3 separate regions of the Homo sapiens genome follow, and regions 1 and 2 are each linked to region 3. Evidence: fine-mapped expression QTL. A gene starts in region 3. Each other region holds a variant in brackets. All regions are shown on one strand. Distances are from middle to middle.

Region 1 (8,183 bases), 56 kb before region 3:
GCAGATATGGGGGACTTCTTAATGTGCTTTTATTGCTGCCTTATCTCTGAAAACAGGTTCTGGGAGTTTGGGAATAAGTCTGAGGGCATATAAAGGATTGAGACTGAGTGACTTAGGAGTGTGAGAGGAAATATCTTGATGTTGAGAACAGGGTTGATGTGGAGGGGTATTCTCTGTGTTATGCATGTAAAAAGAAAAAAAGGAAAAAAAAATCATTACTGGGAAAGAAAACACCCCAAGCTGAAGTCCAAGAAAGGTACACAGAGGAAACACAGAAACAGTTGTGTTAGCAGAAGATGACATGAAACCCAGCTGACAGTGAAATTAGGAAGTTGCCTTGGAATTTCAAGAACTTGCATTCTCAAGTTTATGGTTCTGTGTCCAACAGAGCAGCAAAATCCAGCACTTCTTCTTTTGAGTCTCCATATCGTGCTAACAGAAAGACAAGGGGTCGGGAGATGCAGAGATGAGGAGGAGCTCAAGAGTGACAGTGTTGAAGAGATTCTGAGCAGAACTCCACAGTGATCTGTGTAACTGATATCCAACCCTGATCCCTCCATCGTCTGCCTGTCCAACCCTTGCTTAGATCTCAATGTAACTTCACTTCATTGTGTCCAAGAAGTTCTCTGATCTCTTCCCCTGTGGATTTAGCAACCCTCCATTTTAGAGGCATTTTCAGGAATCTTTTTGCAATGCATCATCTCTATGAAAGCTCAGCTTCCTGCTCCCCAGGCCGATTTAGCCTAACATCCCTGGGCTACACCACTCCGACAGACATGCTGTCAAATTAGTCACCATCTTTCACACAGCCCATCCCCAGCCCACCCTTCACATATACAAAACCTCTTCTACCTACAGATTGTGTTTCTGTAATAGGAATTAGCTCATGTGCTTTTTGTTAATCCTGGAATTATGACAGCATTATAATGTCGGTGTTCCTTTTACTCATACTCAATTTTCTCCCAAATTAATGTGTTATGCCATTGAGGAAGAGTTATTTGAGTACAAAATACACCAGTAGCTAAGCTCAGAAAACCACAGAGAAATGCACTAGCATATGTAATGCCTTTTTGCCCCATGGTTTTCCTTTTGGCTTAAAAGAAACACAAGACCATAGCTTTGTAGATCACATTTTGTACAAAGATGACAACTTCTCCACCTTTAGCCTGTTGTCACAATGTTAGCCCTTACTCCTGTTGGTGTCCTAGAGCCAGCCAGCTTGCACCAGTTTAGGAGAGGTGATTGTTAAATTTTCAGGAAAGTAGTGAGCAAAAATCACTCATAGTAGGAGTATTTACACCACAGAAATTGCCAAACAATACTAAACAAGGCATTTCTTCCTGCATACGATTTATTAGCCCACCATTGCTTTGTTCCCAAATTCAGCAAACTCATCTTTTTGGTATACTTCTTTTTGAGATGGAGTTTTGCTCTTGTTGCCCAGGCTAGAGTGCAATGGTGTGTTCTCAACTCATCGCAATCTCTGCCTCCCAGATTCAAGCGATTTTCCTGCCTCAGCCTCCCGAGTAGCTGGGATTGCAGGCATGTGCCACCATGCTTGGCTAATTTTGTATTTTTAGTAGAGACGGGGTTTCTCCATGTTAGTCAGGCTGGTCTCAAACTCCCGACCTCAGGTGATCCGCCTGCCTCGGCCTCCCAAACTGCTGGGATTACAGGTGTGAGCCACCACACCCAGCCAGTATACTTCTTTCTATTAAGCTACATTCACCTACCTTCAGGTAAAGCCCTACATTTACTATTAAACACGTTTAGTTATTAGGAGTTTGGGTAACTGTGCTAAAAGTATTACTATCATTGATGTTTTTATTAGTGTTCTTTTTTTCTCTTTTTAAGGGTTTTTATGGACAATTTGGTGGGCATTAGGGAATGGGTGCTGCTGATTGGTTGGCTTTATTAGTGTTTTGGAAACAAACCTGCATGGGTTTTTAGTTGTCTAAGCCCAACTCTATTTTTTTGTAAGCCCTGGTGTTTTTGTTGCATGATTTTGCAGAATTCAAGGTGTTTGTTGTTTTTTTTTTCCAGGAAAATAATATGTTGGGTTATTGCAGAACACATACTTTATTTTCTCTAAAATCCCATAAATGCTTGGTTCCAGAATTTCAAGCATCGTTTTTTTGTTTTTGTTTTTGTTTTTTTTTAGAGATGAGGAAGTTGAGGCCAAGAAAAGTGAAAGTATTTAGTTAAAAACACATAGTAAGTGACTGAGCTGCAAGTAAACCAGTCTCCCAGCTATTCATGCAGTAAAATGACTGAACTACAAATGGGAATGAGAACAGATTAAACTAATCTGGAGCCAGAGTTGTCAGAAAGTTCTCTAGGGAAATCCATGAGCATGTCCCCATTGGTTCAAGGATTTCTTATGCAGAGGGAGAGAAATAACGTGATTTCTCTCACATGAACTCAGGGGCCAACTTTGGATAGAACTGAAAGCTGTACCTGAGAAACAAAGAGAAATATTCCTTCCTCCTTCATTTTATACTATTTCCAGCACCAAAACCTTTTCTTCTCTCTGCCTGCCCCCTTCCACACAAACTGTCCAACTCCATTCTCATTTCCCCACTGAGGTGGATGCTGTGGTGCCCTGCCCTGGTCACTCCGTGTTGGACTGAGACACACAATCAACCAGCTGCAGAGAGTGTTGGTGGCTCAGGGCCCTCAGCTGACTCCATACCATGAATTGTTAAAGAGCCAAAGAGAGCCCTGTTGCCCAAGGTTATTCCACCTCTCAGTGAGTGGACCACATCCAATGACTGGAAAACATAGGTGTAAAGGTCCTGGACCCCTTGCACAAGGTACACAACTCTGAAGGGTCACCCCAGTTCCAGAGTTCATTGTGAGACTGCATTATATTTCAACTTTTCCTTCTGTCTATCCTCTTTCCTTAACTTCCTCAAGGTATTGATGCTGCGGGGCTCTCCAGTGGATGTCCTATAGTCTATTTCTCTGGAACCACCAAAGACAGGGATTCTTAAAAGTGTGGTCTGACCCTAAGATTCTTTCAGGGGATCCATGAGGTGAAGACTTTTTTTTTTTTTTTTTTTTGAGATGGAGTCTCACTCTGTCACCCAGGCTGGAGTGCAGTGGTACGATCTCAGCTCACTGCAACCTCTGCCTCCTGGGTTCAAGCTATTCTCCTGTCTCAGCTTCCCGAGTAGCCACCACTCCTGCCTAATTTTTATATTTTTAGTAGAGATGGAGTTTCACCATATTGGTCAAGCTGGTCTCAAACTCCTGACCTCAGGTGATCCACCCATCTCTGCCTCCCAAAGTGCTGAGATTACAGGTGTGAGCCACCGCACCTGGCCAAGACAATGTTTATAATGATACTAAAATGTTATTTGTGGCTGGGCATGGTGGCTCATGCCTGTAATCCCAACGCTTTGGGAGACCAAGGCAGGCAGATCACTTGATGCCAGAAGTTTGAGACCTGCCTGGGCAACATGGTGAAACCCTGATCTCTACAAAAAATACATAAAATTATCTGGGCATGGTGGTGAGTTCCTGTAGTCCCAGCTACTCAGGAGGCTGATGTGGGAGGATCACCTGAGCCTCGGAAGTCGAGGATGCAGTGAGCCATGATCACGCCTCTACACTCCAGCTTGGGTGACAGAGTGAGAACTCTGTTTCAAAAAAAAAAGAAGCGAGAGGATCACTTGAGCCCAGGAATTCAAGACCAGCCTGGACAACATAGTGAGACCCCCATCTCTATTTTTAAAAATAAATAAATAAATTTTTTTTAAGTTATTTGCCTCTTTTACTCACATACTCTCACATGTGTGCATTGGAGTTTTCCAGATGTTGAAGACATGATGACATCATCCCTCTGACACCTATTGGAATGTATGTCACAATGTGTATTATTGTGTTTAAAATGCTGTGTTTTAAGGGCCGGGCATGGTGGCTCACACCTGTAATCCCAGCACTCAGGGAGGCCGAGGCAAGCCGATCACTTGAGCCCAGGAGTCAGACCTGGCCAACATGGTGAAACCTTGTCTCTATGAAAAATAAAAAAATTAGCCAGACATGGTGGTGCATGCCTGTAATCCCAGCTACTAGGAAACTGAGGCAGGAGAATCACTTGAATTTGGGAGGCGGAGGTTGCAGTGAGCC[G/A]AGATTGTACCACTACACTCCAGCCAGGGCAACAGAGCGAGACTCTCATTTAAAAAAAAAAAAAAAACCTGTTTTATTTATTTATTTGAGACAGGGTCTCAATCATTCGCCTAGGCTGGAGAGTAGTGGTGCCATCTAGACTCACTGCAACCTTCACCTCCCAGGCTCAAGTGATGTTCCTGCCTCAGCCTCCCACGTAGCTGAAATTACAGGTGCATGCCACCACACATAGCTAATTTTTGTATTTTTTTGTAGAGACAAGGTCTCACTATGTTGCCCAGGCTTGTCTCGAACTCCTGAGCTCAAGCGATCCACCCACCTTGGCCTCCCAACGTGCTGGAGTTACAGATGTGCACCACCACACCCAGCCCAGTTTTAATTTTTAAATGCTAAGTGTTGATAGATATAACTCACATAAATAAAAACTCTCTGGGATTCTCAATTATTTTCAAGAGTATAAGAAGGTCATGAGACCAAAACATCTGAGAATTGCTGCTCTAAGATAACCAAATCTACCCTGGGAGGAAAAGGCTGAGGTTTTAAAGCACAAGTTATTTTCAAATTATATTTTTAGACATTAAACACGTGTGCATGCACGCACACACACACGTAGAGAAGTCAGTGAGAATGGTTAAGTGAGGACTTCTGAAAATCCCTCCCTCCATAAAAGCAGTAAACACTGGCAAAGATTGGCAGAAAAGGCCAGGTGCAGTGGGTCACGCCTGTAATCCCCTGCACTCTGGGAGGCCAAGGCGGGCGAATCAACTGAGGTTGGGATTTCGAGACCAGCCTGACCAACATGGAGAAACCCCATCTCTACTAAAAATACAAAATTAGCCAGGCATTGTGGTGCATGCCTGTAATCCCAGCCACTCAGGAGGCTGAGGCAGGAGAATCTCTTGAACCCAGGAGGCAGAAGTTGCAGTGAGCCAAGATCGTGCCCTTGCACTCTAGCCTGGGCAACAAGAGTGAAACTCCATCTCAAAAAAAAAAAAAATTGCCAGAATCAACTTTCTCAGAACTCTGTAAATTAACCTAAGGCTTGCAGCAATCAGAGTGAATTTTATTCAAGAAAAATGGCTGAACCTCAGTAAGAACAGTACGTTTTATAGGCATTTTAACATGTCCTATTACACTACCACCACCCCACCACAGCTCTGCAGTAGCCTAGAAACCACCCCACAATCACAGTGAAAAACAGCGCCTGACAGTCACTGGAGGGAATAGAAAGGGGTTGGGGCTCCTTCAAAACCCCATTCCTAGAGAATTGTCATTACTAGACATGCCTGGTTGTTCCTTGTGTAGGGGAGGGAAAAATCTGCTTCTCTTTACCCCTCTAGGTTATTTGGCTAGGCTATTAATTAAATTTATCTAAAACAGATTAATAGGAGAAAAACCATTTTAATTACATGCATATGTACAGGAGTCCCTCAAATCTCAAAATATGAGACTCAAAGAAGGGCCGGATGATTGAAGTTAATATAGCATCCTGAGCTACAGAAAGGAGGAAGTCAGGGCTTCTGGGAAACGATGGAGACAAATTATGGGATGGTGAGAGAAGAAAATGTATGGTGAGTAAAGGTTACCTTGTTACAGATAAAAGTTCCCCAAGTGGTAAAACTTGTCTCAAAGCAGTTCTCTTCCTGGTATAAATACCTCTACTAGTAAAAATTTCTTTTATAGATGTAAATTTTTCTTTACAAAAGGGGTGTTTTATAATTCATTTCAGACAGTTGAGGGGAAGGCAAGGAGATTTTTCTATGTTGGCTGGTCTTTAATTTCTTTTAGCTCAAAAAGATCAGTATGCCAGGGTGGCATATTTTGAGATGGCATATTCTGGTCTCCTGCACTCATATTTTTGGATGGTGTGTCCTGAAACTCAGCACCCAGAAGACGTCACTTGCAAGCTTTGTCCTTATTTGATCTGACGCAAAGCTCACCAAGTGTGAACAGGGTTTTCTCTGGGAGCATTTGTTGACAATAACCAGTGACAATTGTTTAACATCACAGCTGTCTGAGATGGTGGGTAATCATTGGAGCAAACAATAACTAAAAAGCTTAATAGGAAAGGCTGAGGAGTGAAATATATACAGAGGGCTTTGAAAATCTCTGACGTATTTCTTGGATTCTAGAAGTCCACACATATACATAGGGTTGTGCACATGCCCAGGGCTGTGTGTGTGCTCTGGAAAGACCTGAGAAGGCCCTAAGTTCTCACTCTAGCTGATCTTGAGGCTCTGTGTGGCCTCATCCTTCACAGGATGGGGACCCACTGCCACCACCACCAAATTCCTGGTCTCAGAGTCATGTAGAGAGGGCCTGGCCATCTTGACTACCACAGCACAGCACACTCTACCCCATGCCTGGTGGTAAATGAGCTCTTCCCTCTGGTCACATAAAAGGACCTCTTCCAGTTGCCCCATTGACACCCATTTTAGGCCCCAAACCCACCTCTCTTCCCGATTAAACTGTTGCCTTAGTAGCTCATTAGCTTATAACCATAGGGCGAAGTCCCGTCTCAGGGAAACTATTGCTGCCACAGGGTTGTCAACCAAGGAGAAAAGTGTGAGAAAATGACATGTTGTAAACCACTTGCTTTAACATCAGGGTGGCACATTCAACCTAATGCTTGATTGACACTGTACGCTTGGACTTACAGTCCTCTCTCTATATATATGGGGGGGGGGTGGGGGGAGAGAGAGAGAGACAGAGAGAGAACTACGGGGCCTCCTAAGGAGAAGAGGAAACCACAAATGAAGGTCAGAGACAGAAGTGGATAGAAAGCTGGGAGAGGGAAACAGCTGTGAGCCTGATTAAATCCCACCATGACAGCTATGAGGCCCAGGAGTTGACAGCCCATTTCCACCCAACCTCAAAGATTTCCAGTCCACGCTGGAAATCTCCAGGCCTAGAACTGGGATGAAGGAATATTGTACTCTAAGTTTCCAGGAGAACAAACTCATGATAAGCTGACTTGGTTCAGGTGATCCTAGAATAACTAAGGCTGTAGGCATGGTTACCCATGACCTGAGTTTGAGCTTACTGGCAAGCAAGTAAGTAGTGAACCCGGGCTATCATTAGGTTCATCCTCAGTAGCTGGAGGGGACTAAAAGTGAGCCGGGCATCTAAAGTGATGGCTTCAAGGGTAGTGTTTTGGATTCAAACCAATTCAATAATGCATTTTTGTAATAATGACCTGGAAAAAAAATGTTTTAAAAAAATAAACTTATCAATGTTGGTCAAAACCATCATTAATGCAGTAGTCAGATCTGGAAATATTTAATAGGAAAGTATAAAAACCGGTCTTTTATGGCTGCAGCTCTAGAGGAGTTGTATGCTTTTTTCATTTATTTCTGGTATTGCTGATACTCTTTGAACAGTTTTGTTTAAAGAAAGGGTACAACACTAAGTTTCAGGAAGAGAGAAATTCAGCCGTGGTCTCGCTGGTTGTATTTTTAAAAAGTCATTTTATTAGACCATTTTCACATTGCTATAAAGAACTATTTGAGACTGGGTAATTTATAAATAAAAGAGATTTAATTGACTCACAGTTCTGCATGGCTGTGAGGCCTCGGGAAACTTACAGTTGTGGCAAAAGGTGAAGGAAAAGCAAGCACCTTCTTCACAAGGCAGCAGGAGAGAGAGAGGGAGGGGTGAGAGGGAAAGTGTCACACTTTTAAACCATCAGATCTCGTAAGAACTCATTCACTATCACGAGAACAGCATGGTGGAAACTGCCCCCATGATCCAATCACCTCCCGTCACGTCCCTTCTTCAACACATGGGGATTAAAATTAAAGATGAGATTTGAGTGGGGACACAGATCCAAACCATATCAGTCTTATCTTCATGGTGTCTCTGTTTCTTCATCTGTACAAAGAGAGTTAAACCTGAGGACTTTTTAAAATGAATTTGTGTGTGCATGTGTGTTTAAGTTATAGAATGTTTCTATTCACTCTTTTAGAGTTCTCATGACAACCCTGTGAGACAGTTTATTTATTTTATTTTATTTTATTTTTTTCTTTGAGACAGAGTCTCGTTCTTGCCCAGGC
Region 2 (8,183 bases), 22 kb after region 3:
GTATTAGCTTTTTGGGTTGAGAAACTTGATGTTACATGTTTTCCTGCCATTCCCAGTGGCTGCAGCAGTATGAGAGAAGAATGGCGGGGAGGAAGTCAAAAAGATATGGAGCCTTCTGGGCTTGTAAGGACTTTAGATTTAACTGAGAGATGGGAAGTCTGTGAAGATTCTGAGCAGAAGAGTAACAGAATCTAACTTACCTTTTAAGAAGATAATTCTAACTGCTGTGTTGAGAAAAGACCTTAAGGGCACAATGATAGAAACAAGAAAACCAATTAAGAGGCTCCTGGTAACAAAAAGTAATAAGAAAGATCAGAGTGCTAACAGGGGAAGAGGAGAAGTGGGTCTATCTGGAAGGCTGAATCAGTAAGATTTCCTGGTAGATTTGAATGGGAGCGAGAAGAATAGTCAAGGATAACTTTAAGGTCAGAACACCAACCTTATACATCGATACCAATGAATAAAGTGTTAAGTGGCCCAGTGTATTTTTTAAAAATTGCCCTCAAACTTGGAAAGACTGAATTCACATGAAATGTTCTCTACTATATAATCAGAGCAAAAGGGGTTCAATGACAACAAGAGTTATATCACTGTGAAGACTTGATATATCAGGTCTGCAGCCCACATCATCTGTAAGGAGCCCCAGAATATGGATATTGCATTGAAAGAATGCTCACCTCTGAGCACACTGGAGACACAGTGACAAATTACCACTGTCTGTCCTCTGCCATCCAACCCTTCCTTTCTTCTTCTTCTTCTTTTTTTTTGTAGATCTCCCTATGTTGCCCAGCCTGGTCTCAAATCCCTGGCTCAAGGAATCCTCCCCCCTCGTCCTCCCAAAATGCTGGGATTACAGGCATAAGGCACCACAGGCCCTTTTTTCTTTACTCAGTAACCTAAATATTATCAGTAATTTATCACTTGCTCCATGTGATATGTTATATCCAGTTTTAAAATGATTCTATATTTTATCTACTTAGATAAATGGCACTTACAGTTGGGCACAGGAAATCATGAGTATTAAACTGGACGGGGCCAGTCACAGTGGTTCACGCCTGTAATCCCAGCACTTTGGGAGGCCAAGCTGAGTGGATCACTTGAGCTCAGGAGTTCGAGACCAGCCTGGCCAACATGGCAAAACCCCATCTCTACAAAAAATACAAAAATTAGTTGGATGTGGTGGTGCTCACGTCAAGTTCCAGCTACTGGGGAGGCTGAGGAGGGAGGATCGCTTGAACCGAGGTGGTGGAGGTTACAGTGAGCCATGATTGCACCACTACACTCCAGCCTGGGTGACAGAGCAAGACCCTGTCTCTAAATAAATAAATAAACTAACTAACTAACTAGATGGACTCCCTAGGATTTGGGTGTATTGTTGGTATATACACCATGAAACTGAGAATTATGAGTTAACACAAAATGGATGAATTTGACCACAGTAACTTTTCTTGAGTACACTGAGACTTGACTGTTCTCTAAGTCTACTTTATAAAAGATACAGTGTCTTTCAAAACAATTGACAAACACATTTTTATTAAGCACCTTTTCATTGCTGGACATTTAATAAAAATATGAAGATGATATAGTCCCTGCCTTCCAGAAAGTTGCCATCAAGACTACTTTCAGTGATCGTTTCTATGCTTTGTTACTAGAGAAGGTTCTCTGAATGTATAGAGCACTGCAAGAAAAAATAAATAAAAAAGAAAATTGCCATATACCTACTGGGTGAATGTGACTGATTTAACAAAAATTACATCCACAGCTATATTTTAATTGTCTGGCAATAGGAAATGAAGATGCAGCCAGGTGCAATGGCTCATGCCTGTAATTCTAGCACTTTAGGAGGTCAAGGCAGGAGGACTGCTTGAGGCTGGGAGTTCAAGACCAGCCTGGGCAACATAACGAGACCCTGTCTCTGTATTTAAAAAAAAAAATTCTTTTTCAATAAATACAAAAATTAGCTGGGTGTGGTGGTGCACACCTGTAGTCCCAGCTACTTGGGAGGCTGAGGTGGGAGGATCGCTTGAGCTCAGGAGGTTGAGGCTGCAGTGAGCTGTGACGGAGCCACTACACTCCAGCCTGGGTGACAGAGCAAGACCCTGTCTCAAAAAAATTAAATAGGCCGGGCGCAGTGGCTCACGCTTGTAATCCCAGCACTTTGGGAGGCCTAGGCGTGCGGATCACGAGGTCAGGAGATCGAGACCATCTGGCTAACACGGTGAAACCCCGTCTCTACTAAAAATACAAAAAAATTAGCCAGGCGTGGTGGCGGGCGCCTGTAGTCCCAGCTACTCGGGGGCTGAGGCAGGAGAATGGCGTGAACCCGGGAGGCGGAGCTTGCAGTGAGCCGAGATCGCGCCACTGCAGTCCCGCCTGGGCGACAGAGCGAGACTCCGTCTCAAAAAAAAAAAAAAAAAAAAAAAATTAAATAAAAAAGGATAAAACATTGTGCATTGCTTTATGCTTCTGTAAATAATTCTAGGGTTTGAGTGCTAGAAATAGCATCAAAAAATGTTAGTGGGGCCAGGCGTGGTGGCTCATGCCTGTAATCCCAGCACTTTAGGAGGCCGAAGCGGGTGGATCACCTGAGGTCAGGAGTTCGAGACTAGCCTGGCCAACATAGTGAAACCCCATCTCTACTAAAAATACAAAAATTAGCAGGGTGAGGTGGTGGGTGCCTGTAGTCCCAGTTACTTGGGAAACTAAGGCAGGAGAATCATTTGAACCCAGGAGGCAGAAGTTGCAGTTAGCCGAGATCGTGCCACTGCACTTTAGCCTGAACAACAAGAGCGAAACTCTGTCAAAAAAAAAAAAAAAATTAGCCTGCCGGGCATGATGGCTCATGCCTGTAATCCCAGCACTTTGAGAGGCTAAGGCAGGTGTATCACCTGAGGTCAGGAGTTCAAGACCAACATAGCAAAACCTCATCTGTACCAAAAATACAAAAATTAACTGGGTTCGGTGGCTCGCACCTTTAATCCTAGCTACTTGGGAGGCTGAGGCACAAGAATCGCTTGAACCCAGGAGGCAGAGGTTGCAGGGAGCCGAAATCGCACCACTGCACTCCAGCCTGGGTGACAGAGTGAGACTCCGTCTCAAAAAAAAAAAAATTAGCCTTGTATGTATACATGATTTTAAATATCGACTTAAAAGCAATCTAAAATGAAAATTGAAAATATTTGGGCCGTCTAATGTATTACAATATGAAATGCCAGCAACATCTACGAAATCCTTTTGCCAAAAATATTTTAAGTTGAATTGAATCAAGTTTCTAGACATACCTTCTAATTTATAGAACATAGAGGATCAAATGCAACAAAACTATGAATCAAATGGTCTTTAAAAAGTCAATGTTATAAAAATATTAAGAGACTAAAGACATTACAGTCACATGTAATGAGTGACTCTATACTGAATTCTAGTTCAAAAAAATAAATACATAAATATATTCTTGGGATAACTAGAGAAATTGGGTCATAAGCCAGTTATTAGACACAATGAAATTACTGATACTTTTCCTAGGAGTAATAATAATTTTGTGATGTGTAGAATGCTCTTACATGTAGGAGTGCTTGCTGAAGTGTTTAAATGGTAAAGTCATCACATCTGTCACTTATTTTCAAACAGCTCAGCAAAAGAAATGTACATGCTGTGTGTGTCCATACACAAGAAAGAAAGATTGATTTAAAGCGAGTATGGCAAATACTAGCAATTGTTGATTGTGGAGTGTATATATTGTTCACTGCAATATTATTTCAACTCCTTTTTGTAAATTTAAAACTTTTCATGGTAAAAACCCTATAGGGCGAAAATAACCTCCTTCAAGAGCAACATAAAAAACATGACACAACTAAAAACTGTGATAATTGTGTCCCTTTTGTCATTTCTGAGAATCCCAAAACATTGTCTTGTATTCTTTTGTAAAGGAAGAAAGTTTAGTCAAGAGTTTATTTTAGGGACAAGCCTAAGAACATGTCCTCATTTATTATTTCTGTTTTAATCCAAAGAGCTTCTTCAGATGTCAAAAGTCATGTAAAATTTGTGTATGGATGAGATTATACAGCAAGGCAAGTTCCTAGCTAATGATTCACATTAAGGGGCTGAACATACTGGGTTTGAAAATGGCTCAGGCT[G/A]GGCGCTGTGGCTCATTCCTGTAATCATAGCACTTTGGGAAGCCAAGACCAGCCTGGCCAACATGTTGAAACCCAGTCTCTACAAAAAATACAGTAATTAGCCAGGCGTGGTGGCAGGTGCCTGTACTCCCAGCTACTCGGGAGGCTGAGTAGGAGGATGGTTTAAGCCCAAGGAGGCAGAGCTTGCAGTGAGCCATGTTCATGCCACAGCACTCCTGTAGCAGGAGGAGTCATGGACAAAATCCCTCAGACACTGGATTGGGGAAGGAAAGAGCTTTATTCAGCTGGGAGCATCGGCAGACTCGCGTCCTAGAAACCGAGCTCTCCGAATAAGTAATTCCTATCCTTTTTAAGGGCTCACAACTCTAAAGGGGCTGCATGAAGTGGGGGTTATGATCGATTGAGCAAGCGAGGGGTACACGACTGGGGGCTGCCTGCATCAGTAATCAGAACGAAACAGAACAGAACAGGGAGTTTCACAATGCTTCTTCATGCAATGTCTAGAATCTATAGATACCAAAAGTGGTGAGTTCAGGGGTTGAATTTTAACTACCAGGCCCGAGGCGCGGCGCCGGGCTGTCTGACTATGAATTTCACTTCTGCCTATTCTTTTAACTTCTACCTTTTCAGCAAACAAGAAATTAAATATAAGACAATATGAGGAGTGGTCTCCTCTTTCACTCCAATCTGGGAACAGAGCCAGACCATCTCAAGAAAAAAAAAGAAAAAGAAAAAACAAAGAAAGAAAAGAAAATGGCTCAGTAAATTGGATTGGGATTGTTGCGAAATTTGAGAAACTAGGTATTAAAGCATGTACAGTGGCAGCATCTTGTATGCACTATATGCTAATAAATAATTACTTAATATTGGTGAGGTTTGGCAGGGTAATGGAATATGTGTTAACTGAAAGAGGACAACAACATCTAAAAAAGGCAAAGTTCTTACCAGCTGAGAGCTGAAAACACAGCTAATATTTAATTATTCATAGAAGGAAAATAAAATGAAGAAAAATCTCGACTGATCTATCTTCTAATGTTCTGAAATTTACAGCTCATTGCTTAAAGTAGGCCTGGTAAAGAGAATGGAGTCAATGCTCTTTTTTTTTTTTAACCAAATAACATCTATTAACATCTCAAGGAACTATTGATACTCAAGGAACTAACATTTAGCAAAAATGTATTTAGAAAATATGGTTCTTTTCAAATGTAAATTATTAATTGTGACAGGCAAACAACCAGGAAATAACAGAAAAGACTGGAAGAACTGGTTAAAGACACATCTAATGCCATAAAAGTTCACAAGACTACTTACAGATAAATAATAGTTTATTAACAATCTTGTACTTTTAAAATTCACACTGGTAATTCTAAAATGCTTCAAGTGACATCAGAATCACCTAAGATGTGGGCATGACAATCAATTAATTAATTTATAATTAATCTAAGAAAAGCGATATACATTTTAGAGACCAGGAAGACTAAAGTGGCTTCTGAATTACTGTGTTTATGAACCAAGAACTGGATTATGAAGACTTTTATAAAATCATCTTGAGGTAGGGAAAAAACCAACATTCTGGGAGTACGATGCCCATTTTTGTGTGTGTTTACAATATTGTGATTGCTGTAATAATCAGGCAGTGAGAATACTAGCCCTTCATCTGATAAGCCTTACCCTCAGGTCCCTCTTAACCGTTTATAAAGCTGGTGATATGGTGTGATATGGTGTGGCTGTTTCCCCACCTAAATCTCATTTTGAATTGTAGTTCCCAAAATCTCCGTGTGTCATGGGAGGGACCCAGTAGGAGGTAATGAAATCATGGGGGCGGTTGCCCCCACGCTATTCTCTTCATGGTAAGTTCTCACCAGATCTAACGGTTTTTATAAGGGGCTTCTTCCTTCACTTGGTTCTCAGTCTCTCTCCTGCTGCCCTGTGAAAAGTAGGCACCCTTCTAGGGGCATGCATTATCACGTGAAAGTATACCAATGTTAAATGCAGAAACAATAGACTCTAAGGAGACTTCAGAAAGGAAAAACAGTAATATAAAAGAGGTCAGAAAACGGATACCTCTCACTGACACCTATTAGACAAGTACAGGACGAGATCTTGACAGGGAGTGGAAGGATATCCTGCCCTATCTCATTAGGGTTACTCTGTGAGGCAAGACCAGGAGTGGGGATAGGTCTGGAACAGCCATGTTGTAATAAGCTTTCCAAGAAAACGTCACTACATTATTTTGGAGGACAGTATGAAAGGTAATGTAGCTGGGAGAATTGGGGATAATCAAAAAACAGGCTATCTCACTCAGCTTTCTTCCTATTTATTTATTTATGACACAGGGTCTCCCTCTGTTGCCCAGGCTGGAGTACAGTGGCGCGATCTCAGCTCACTGCAGCCTCGACTTCCCAGTGAGGCAGAAAAATAGGGCCTGGAGTCAAGGAACATAAGGCCAACTCACACTTCAGCTATAACAGGAAATATCCTCTCCATAGGGCATACACGGAGTAAATTACTTTGTAACTTTAATTCATCCTCTTCATTTACATAGGGCGTACCCCAAGTAGATGATATTTAAACTCACAAAAACTCTGTAACGGGGCCTTTGAGCTCCTGTGCTCAGCCCCACTCCCACACTGTGGAGTATACTTTCGTTTTCAATAAAACCCTTCATTCTTTCCTTGCTCTGTTTGTGCGTTTTGTCCAGTTCTTTGTTCAAGACGCCAAGAACCTGGACACCCTCCACCATTACCACCATTAACACCAGGCTCTAGTGATCCTCCCATCTCAGCCTCCTGAGTAGCTGGAGCTGTAGGCACGTGCCACCACGCCCAGCTAACTTTTGTATTTTTTGTAGAGACGGGGTTTTGCCATATTCCCCAGTGGTGGCTCACGCCTGTAATCCCAGCACTTTGGGAGGCTGAGGCGGGTTGATCACGAGGTCAGGAGTTTGAGACCAGCCTGGCCAACATGGTGAAACCCTGTCTCTACTAAAAATACAAAAATTAGCTGGGCGCGGTGGCGGGCGCTTGTAATCCCAGCTACTAGGGAGGCTGAGGCAGAAGAATTGCTTGAACCTGGGAGGCGGAGGTTGCAGTGAGCCAAGATCGGGCCACTGCACCACTCCAGTCTGGGTGACTGAGCAAGACTCCGTCTCAGGGGAAAAAAAAAAGTGATTCTGATCAATCGCTTCTTCAAAATTCCTAACTAAGCATGGGCAACATAGTGAGACCTATGACTCAACATACTGAGTCTCTACAAAAATACAAAAACAAAATAAACCAGCCCATTAGCTGGGCATGATGATATGTGCCTTAATCCCAGCTGCTCAGGTGGCTGAGGGGAGATGATCCCTTGAGCCTAGGAGTTCAAGACTTTAGTGAGCTTTGATCCCACCGCTGCACCCCAGCCTGGACCACTGCACCCCAGCATCAACAACAGAGTGTGACCCTGTCTCGAAAAAAAAAATCCTCTGTAAGGACTATAACTCCATCTAGGAGGCTTTCCTTAATTAATCTCAACCAAATCTGATCTCTTACATAGTCTAAATTCTTGTGTACTTAGCTTTTTTTGTGGTACTGTTTGGGACTTGTTTTAATGATTACATTATTACTCGTATGCTTCCTATGGTGTTATTCTTGAATTTTTTATACTCTAATTTCACTAAAGATAAGGCCCAGCGAAAAGGCTTTCAAAGTACTCTCTGTGGGTTCCCCTGTTTGAGCCTGTGGGAGTAAGGCAGTGGACAGCACACTCTGAGAACTGTGCGTTACAAATTCTATTTAATTTGATATTCACAACTATCCCCTTAGGATCTGTATTACCTTCATTATCATCATCTCCATTTTGTATAAGGCATGAGGAAGTTAGGGAAGTCATACTACTAGTGAGACATAGATTCAAAGGTGGACTAAGTGGCTCCAATACCTCTCTGTGTTCTTTCCATTACATCATACATACGAGTAAATAGCCTGTCCATGTTGCTGTAACTTCTACTACCAAAATTCATTATTTACTTTTAAATTGTGTTCAAAAGGGTCTATGTATACAATTAGT
Region 3 (8,183 bases):
TCAGTTCCGACTGTGATTAGGAACCATGGAACCCTCACATTGGCTCCGCTCCACACGTCTGAAATTGGAGAGGATGCAGGTGGCTGTGTCACAGACTGCCGACAGTCATGTAAAACAATGTGAGAGTGGCAGATGGTGTAGTTTTCCATGTGCCTGGGAGTGAAACTAAAAAAAACTGCACTGAAACACAGAGAAGAGTCCACCACTGTCATAGTTGTATGTGTCAACTTAGGCTACCCAGTTATTCAATTAAACACTAACCTACATGTTTCTGTGAAGTTATCTTGTAAATGTGGTTAACAATCAGTTAACCTTAAAAAAAGATTCTCCCTTATGTAGATGGGCCTTATCCAATCAGTTAAAAGGCTTTGAGAGCAAAACAAAGGCCTCCCTAAGGAAGAAGAAATTCTGTTTCAAGACTTCAGCATCAGCTTCTGCCTGAGAGTTTCCAGCCTGCCCTACAACCCTACAGGTTTCAGACTTGCCAGTCCTCACCCTAGATATATATAGATATATATCTAGATTTATATATCTGGACTCTTTCTCCGATATATGCTGAAGAAAAGACTGGAAGTTGAAACTGGAACTGTCAGAAAAGATGTAGAAAGATTTCCAAGAGCAAAGCAAAAGCATTTCTTTTTTTTTTTTTTTGAGACAGAGTTTTGCTCTTATTGCCTGGGCTGGAGTGCAATGGGCGCGATCTCGGCTCACTGCAACCTCCGCCTCCCGGGTTCAAGTAATTCTCCTGCCTCAGCTTCCCGAGTAGCTGGGACCCACGTCCGGCTAATTTTTTGTATTTTTAGTAGAGACGGGGTTTTACCATGTTGGGCAGGCTGGTCTCGATTTCCTTACCTCGTGATCCGCCCACCTCGGCCTCCCAAAGCGCTGGGATTACAGGCGTGAGCCACCACGCCCAGCTGAAAGCATTTATTGTAGTGAATATGGCTAAGAAATTTGAGGCACCCAAGGGAGGTCTTCAAAGCCTGCAAAACACAGATAAATTTTTATAGACAAACACTAAGGAGACTGAATGTGGACAGAGCCTACAGCCAGCTGGGTTAAAGCTCATTTTTAAGGTGCTAGGTGGGACCTGTGACTTCCAGGGATGCTCTAGCCTGACCAGCATGGAGAAACCCCGTCTCTACTAAAAATACAAAATTAGCCGGGCGTGGTGGAGCATGCCTGTAATCCCAGCTACTTGAGAGGCTGAGGCAGGAGAATCGCTTGAACCCGGGAGGCAGAGGTTGCGGTGAGCCGAGATCGCGCCATTGCACTCCAGCCTGGGCAATAAGAGCAAAATTCTGTCTCCAAAAAAAAAAAAAAAAAAGTTTTGGTAACCTATTTTAACATAATTAGTTTTCTTTTGAAATCTTACATATTTATCTTTTCTTTCGTGTATTTAAAAGTATTATTCTGAGATAGAGTCCAGAATCACCAAGCTGCCCTTGGGGTCCATAGTACAAAACCTAACGAGAAGATCCCTATGCTATTGCCTAGGGAGTAATCCATAACCTAGGTCTACCTTAATATTTATGCAGAAAGAGCAGAATATTTTTTGTAACGGCTGTTGAAACCTTATGAACTGAAAACAAATATTTTCTAATCTCAAAGTGTATATTCTCAATATCAGGCAGTTTTACTTCTGTTTAGTAGACCTCATCTTATTTAAAATGCTCACCAGGCATGGGGATGATTTATTCTCAGAAATATGGACAAACTAAAACACACACATATGAGACGTTTGTTTGCTTTCAAAGTGAAAAAGTGAACATTCATATGAGTGTCCGGGTTGATGATGCTCCTTATAAAGCTGTCAAATTCTGAGATCAAGGCCCTGCAGTAGAAGCAGCATGCAGTGAGGAGGCCTAGCACAGTTTCGCTTAGTAAAATATTTGAAGAAAAAAAAAAAAAGACCCACAGAGAGACAAATGAAAACTCAGACCACGTCACCGTACAACGGCTTCCAGTTTCCTACAGAATACCAGCCAGAGTCCTTACAAGAGCCTGTAAAGCTGGCCAGAGTCCTTACAAGGGCCTATAAAGCTGGAGGTGGTCTCCCAGGATCTCCTATTCCTCTCCACTGAGCACCGGCCTCCTCAACATAACTCCCAAGCCTGCTTCCACCTCCAGGCCTTTTCCCTAGCGATTTTTCCCTGTTCCAGATCACTCATTTCCCCGATATCAGCATTTATCCCTCATTCATCACTTTCACTGCTGGCCTTTCCTATCCTCTTTCCCTGTTTTATTATTATTTTTCTCCAATCGCTTATCACTATTATTTTGTTTATTTAATGCTTTATTATCCGCTTCCGCCACTGCCATGTAATCTTGAGGGCAAGGGTCTCTCATGTTTTCTTCACCGTTATCTGCAGTGCCTTGAACACTAATACTGGTTGAATGAACGAACGCATTAATGGAGCGGTGATATTGGGGCAGAGAGGATGCAGGGCTTGCTTTTCACCGCCATTTTTCAGCCGGCAGAGACAGACCGAGAAAGGAATGAAGGCCACGGGGCGTGTGCAGAAGTAGCTACCAGAGAGTCCATGCGCTGCGAGCCTGGACCAGCGGGCAAACGCGGCTTACAGGCGTTCACCCAGATATTACGGGTACAACCTAGTTTCTTATGAAATACCTCGCCCCTAAGGTACGCGCAGGGCCAGTGGCGCAATGGATAACGCGTCTGACTACGGATCAGAAGATTCCAGGTTCGACTCCTGGCTGGCTCGGTGTAAGCAGGGTCGTTTTACAACTTTCTGACTCCGCAGGAGTAAGGAAATTCCTGCAAGATAAATTTGCCTGGAAGACTCAGAAGCAAGAGGGGCAGCTCCCGACAACATATGGGGTTATCATTTCTTTGCGGAGCATTCTGCCACTGACCACGTGGTAACGCCAACTACGCCAGAGAAACGCTCGCCCTACCCAAGTTGTGCCCAGCCTTGCCTGGCCATTTTGGCCGAAGAACGAAGGACCGTTCAGAGATTAAATTAAAGTCTCTATTGTGTTCTTCCCTATTCAGTCATTTGTAGAATAAATTCTATGGCTTCAGTTTGAACACTGGAGGGGCTGGGTCTGAGCTTTTCATTGGTTTTTCTGGTTTGAGAGGTCGGTACAGAGACGCACGCGCACATCAGCAAAACACGCACTTGGAACGAAGAAACACGGAACTAGGCAGGAAGAACTATTTACTCTGAAAAATAAGCCCTTAGTGGGTTTCCGTAGTGTAGTGGTTATCACGTTCGCCTCACACGCGAAAGGTCCCCGGTTCGAAACCGGGCGGAAACACGTTTTTTTTTCCTCATCTTACTACGAAATTCTTCCAGTGTGTATCTTTTAAAGACTTTTTCAGGCTGTCATAAATTTCCTGTCTTCTTGTCTTGCTAGATCGGGGCAGCAGTGCTTAGGGCGGGCCTCAGAGGCTCACACACGTATCGCCAGGGGGAGAACCAGCTCTCTCCGGCTTGGACTCGGGGCGGCTCCCCGCCTGCAGCCCCGGAAGCGCATCCTCACCTTCCCTCGCCTTCCTGTTCCTGGCGGAGCCGGGCTCCGCTCGTCTTCTCTGTCTTAGGGCTGGTGCTGGCCCTGCCCACGCCTAGGGCTCCGGCGCGTCACGGGCCTCAGCTGGGATTCCCGCGCCCCTCGGACGGCCACGAGACTCGGGTAAGTGCCTCACAGACTTTGTGCGCTACCCCGGAAAATGAGGGGCGTGGTGGGGGGGGTCCCGCCGCCCTCCGTATACTTAGGACCCTCCTGCCAGCTGGCCCCGGTCATGATTAGGGGCCTTGGGCCCCGTCAGCCCCGCCTGTCTTCCCGTCTCCAGAGTAATCGCAGCATCTCTCCTGAGCTCCGAGTGTGAATCCCTGGGAAAAGCTGAATCCAGAGGTGGGGTCACAGAGAGCCGCAGGCCCGACCGGGATGAGAAGTCCTAATCGGCGTTCTAGGGGCGTTCTAAAAGAAGGAAGGAAGGGGATTTGAAAGGATTGCTCCCGCAGGGCTGTGGCCTTAAAGAGGTGGTGACTGGCAGGTTGGACTGACCTGCCGTGGGCTCTCCCTTCCTCCCCAATTTACCTTCGAGAAACCCTCGTTGAGGAGACACCCAAGGGCTGAGTCCTCCTCCACTTTGACCTTTTGCTATTCCATCACAAAGAAAAAATGGATCCCAAAGTTAAGAAATGGACCAGCACTTGTTTAGAATCAGGACTGGTGCCTTGGTGTTTGGCCTCTTACCTCTGCCACATGGCTTGCTTACAAGTTAATCGGATTAATCAAACGCTTTTATGAGAAAGTTTTGTTGTGTCACCTGGCAGCCTCGGGTGTTCCCTAAGAGGGATTTCTTTCTTAGATGTATTACTACTTTTTCTAGGGATTAGCCAAGCCTAGCCTCTCAGATCATATTGCTCCAGGTTCCCTCAAATGACTAATAAGAATGTGATGTGTTTGTTTTTGTTTGTTTGTTTTTGAGACGGAGTCTCACTCTGTTGTCCAGGCTGGGGTGCAATGGTGCGATCTCGCTCACTGCAACCTCCACCTCGATTCTTGTGCCTCAGGCTCCCGAGCAGCTGGGACTACAGGTGTGTAACACTACACCCGGATAATTTTTGTATTTTTAGTTGGAGACGGAGTTTCACCATATTGGCCAGGCTGGTCTCAAACTCCTGACCTCAAGTGATCCGCCCGCCTCGGCCTCCCAAAGTGCTGAGATTACAGGCATGAGCCACCGCGCCCAACCGAATGTGATATTTTTATGACCATGAGAAAAGAAGGGCTGCATTCTTTGGTGGGTCCGCAAAATTAAAAAAAAAAAAAAAAAAAGAAAAGAAAAGAAAGAAAAGGACAATGTTAATGAGCTGTTTTCTTTTTATCATTTTCTTAAACAGGCTGCTTGGGTAGACGTTGACTTGAAAGGTCCATTCTTTTGTCATCTTGCTGGTTCCCTTAACAAGACAACACCTTGGCTAGCAAGATAATATCTTGGTTAGCAAGACAATAAACTTGGGCATGTGCTCAACAGCAACCTGTCTAATACATTTTCATTTAAAATCCCCTCTGTACTACTCAGAAATATAAGCAAGTTATTATGGTGCCCAGAAAGGGGGCAAAGGTTCCAGGGTCCTAGGAGATGACAAGGATTTATCCTCTTCATCTTTCTCCGATCCCAGTTAGCAGGAATACTTTAGCCTGGAAGGTGAGTGTGCCCCTAACCAACCTTTACAGATGGGTGACTGTTTGGGAGCTTATGGCTCACTCCTTCTCTTTAAAGCAGATGCATTCTGGCAAGCTGCAGCAGCAAACCTACCCTTTTAGACACCCTGCGTTTTCTCATCTTTCCTTTCTACCCCTGCATCTCCCAGTCTCTCTCACTTAACCTCCGTGGAAACTCATGCTGCGTCTCTAATACTTTGGAAGATGAAGAACAAACGCCCTGGAGAGTGACTGACACCATGTGACCTCTTGCTTCTGTAGCACACTGCATCTTGCCTGTGAATCTTTTTTTTTTTTTCTTTTTTTTTTGAGACCGGGTCTTGCTCTGTCACCCAGGCTGGAGTGCAGTGGCACAATCTTGGCTCACTGCAACCTCCGCCTCCCAGGCTCAAGTGATTCTCCTGCCTCAGCTTCCCAAGTAGTTGGGACTATAGGCATATGCCACCACACCCAGCTAATTTTTGTATTTTTAGTAGAAATGGGTTTCACCATGTTGGCCAGGCTGGTCTTGAACTCCTGACCTCAAGTGATCCACCTGCCTCCACCTCCCAAAGTGCTGGGATTACAGGCGTGAGCCACCACGCCCAGCATTTGCCTGTGCATTTTTTATTGTATTTTAATTATATCCTTTATTCTCTCCTTCCTAAGCTTGGTGTTCTTAACTTTCTTCCAGATCTTCCCTCCAACCCCCAAACACGATCTCTCCTTAAGTAAGAGGCAGGGAGGGAGAGGGGAACCTTCTGATTTCGGGGTGGGATTGAGGCTAAAACCCAAGTTAGAACTACCTCCCAGAAACCCAGTTCCGTATCCATCGAGTGATCAAAAAGATGCTGCTAAAATGTGCCTTGTGTTTGCTAGGGATGAGGTGAAAATGAGTATTGAATGAGGTGGCATTTTGGTCCATGGATTTGCTTGCTATGAAAGAGAAAAAACATGGAAAAATATATTTTGAGAGCTGGGTGAGACCCCCAAATTAATCTAATCCAAGATGTTTCCCTAGTCATTACATTCCTTTTTTTTTGAAACAGAATCTCACTCTATTGCCCAGGCTGGAGTGCAGTGGCGCAATCTCGGCTCACTGCAACCTCTGCCTCCCGGGTTCAAGCAATTCTCCTGCCTCAGCATCCTTAGTAGCTGGGATTACAGGCACGCACCACCACCCATGGCTAATTTTGTATTTTTAGTAGAGATAGGGTTTCACCATGTTGGCCAGGCTGGTCTCGAACTTCTGACCACCTTGGCCTCCCAAAGTTCTGGGATTACAGGCGTGAGCCACCACGCCCTGCCTGAGTCACTAAATTCTTACACTGTTCCCTCCTATGTTAGTCCGCTAGGGCTGCCGAAACAAGGTACCACAGGCTGAGTGACTTAAACAACAAAAATTAATTTTCTTTGACTTCTGGAGGATAGAAGTCCAAGATCAAGATGTCGGCAGGTTTGGTTTCTTCTGAGGCCTCTCCTTGGCTTGCAGATGGCCACCTCCCACTACATCCTTAGATGTGTTCCTCTATGTTGTCTGTATCCTAATCTCCTCTTCCTATAAGTACACCAGTAATATTGAATTAGGGCCCACCCATAATACCCTATTTTGCTTTTTATTTCACTATTAGTTTTTTTTTTAAAGCTATTTTTGCCAGTTAATTTAAACATCATGATCTTCTTCTAATGATAAAAATGCAAGTCTTCATGCTAACAAAAGGATTGGAAGAAGGATGAAGCAGATGTTTCTTCTCCCCTACAGCAATCTGGTTAAATGAGGAGTTAAATTGAGAGCTTTCATGAGAATTTCAGTCCAGTTCTGTGCAATGAAGACGAGTGATTCAAAACTTTCACTAACTTGCTCTGTTGTTTGTAATATAATGTTATTGGAAGAGTTATTTTAACAAAGGGGAACTGTTATATTTCTAAAACTTTTAAAATTGTTGCCATGTCTTGGGAAAATAACTTCAGTATCTGTCTTGATAATTTCTTGCCCTGATGATACCATTGAAAGTCATTTCTCTATGTTTCCAAAAGTTGTACAATTACTAGTAAGATTTATCTGCCAGTTAATAATTTTTCTTTTCTTCCACATGCATGAAGGAGTATTTGTAATGACTTTTATATTTTATCATTAACATTATTTTTTTGAACTCTTAAAATGCGTATTTTTTTTTTACATTAATAGACTTCCTTTTTTCAGAGCAATTTTTGGTTTACAGAAAATTGAGCAGAAGATACAGAGTTCCCACATACTTCCTTTCCCCCACCTCAGTTTCTCCTAAGTTATTAACAACTTACACTGGTGTGGTACATTTGTTACAAATGATGAACTAATATTGATAGCTTATTATTAACTAAAATATATAGTTTACATCAGGGTTCACTCACTGTATGAAGTTCTGTGGGTTTTGTCAAGTGCATAACATCTACCATTTTATAATATATGCCATTACAGTAGCATACAAAAGAGTTTCATTTACCTAAAAATCTCTTCTGCGCCACCTCAAATAATTTCTTCTGAGTTAAAACCACTGTGTGGTGAGAGCTCCTTCCTTTTCCAACCTCCTTGTCCTTTATGGAAATGGTAAGAGCTTTTACCCATCTCTCTGGTCCCTTTTCATTATGTGTGTATCTGTCTCCCACATTTGTAAGGTCTCTAGAGAGTCAGTGACCTGGTCTCCTAATCAGCTTCCTAAAGGTGAGTTTCAAGAATTAAATCCGTATTTATATACTCAGATACAGCATCCAGGCAGTGGCCTATTTTTCCTGATTTTATTTTGTCACCTGCTGTATTTTGGCCTTTGACATGTGGAGATCATGGCCCCCCTACTTCGGATGGACTTCAATGGATCTAACTCGAAGAAGACTGAACCCAGGAAAAGAGACTGTGTGAGCATTCTCACACCAGGAAATGGGCTGAGAAACAATTTTGGAGTGAGATGGAAGGAGAATGGTATGGAGTATCTATTCTTAGGGAAATGTGTGCTAGGCCAAAATCTCAC

Evidence for each region. PIP is the estimated chance that this variant, and not a neighbour inherited with it, causes the effect.
Region 1: its variant is the best candidate, but not a certain one, in a credible set for the expression of HMGN4 in whole blood (TOPMed, PIP 0.53).
Region 2: its variant is the best candidate, but not a certain one, in a credible set for the expression of HMGN4 in whole blood (TOPMed, PIP 0.68).

The regions. Positions count from the first base shown.
Region 1 is chr6:26,478,689-26,486,871 of GRCh38, forward strand. It overlaps LOC285819 (a long non-coding RNA gene), which reads right to left and starts at 3,821. Exons shown (of 4, transcript NR_038992.1): 1 at 3,784-3,821; 2 at 1-432. LOC107986583 (a long non-coding RNA gene) reads right to left here. Exons shown (of 4, transcript XR_001744057.3): 4 at 7,961-8,001. The variant G/A (reference allele first, on the strand shown) is at 4,132.
Region 2 is chr6:26,557,341-26,565,523 of GRCh38, forward strand. No RefSeq gene overlaps it. Among named protein-coding and RNA genes, the nearest start is that of TRK-CTT2-4, 4.9 kb to the left of the region's middle. The variant G/A (reference allele first, on the strand shown) is at 4,134.
Region 3 is chr6:26,534,845-26,543,027 of GRCh38, forward strand. HMGN4 (high mobility group nucleosomal binding domain 4) reads left to right here and starts at 3,522. Exons shown (of 2, transcript NM_006353.3): 1 at 3,522-3,657. TRR-ACG1-2 (tRNA-Arg (anticodon ACG) 1-2) reads left to right here and starts at 2,654; the gene lies at 2,654-2,726. TRV-CAC1-6 (tRNA-Val (anticodon CAC) 1-6) reads left to right here and starts at 3,210; the gene lies at 3,210-3,282. RefSeq lists enhancers at 1,219-1,718, 1,808-2,472, 3,733-4,142 and silencers at 2,506-2,799, 3,193-3,242.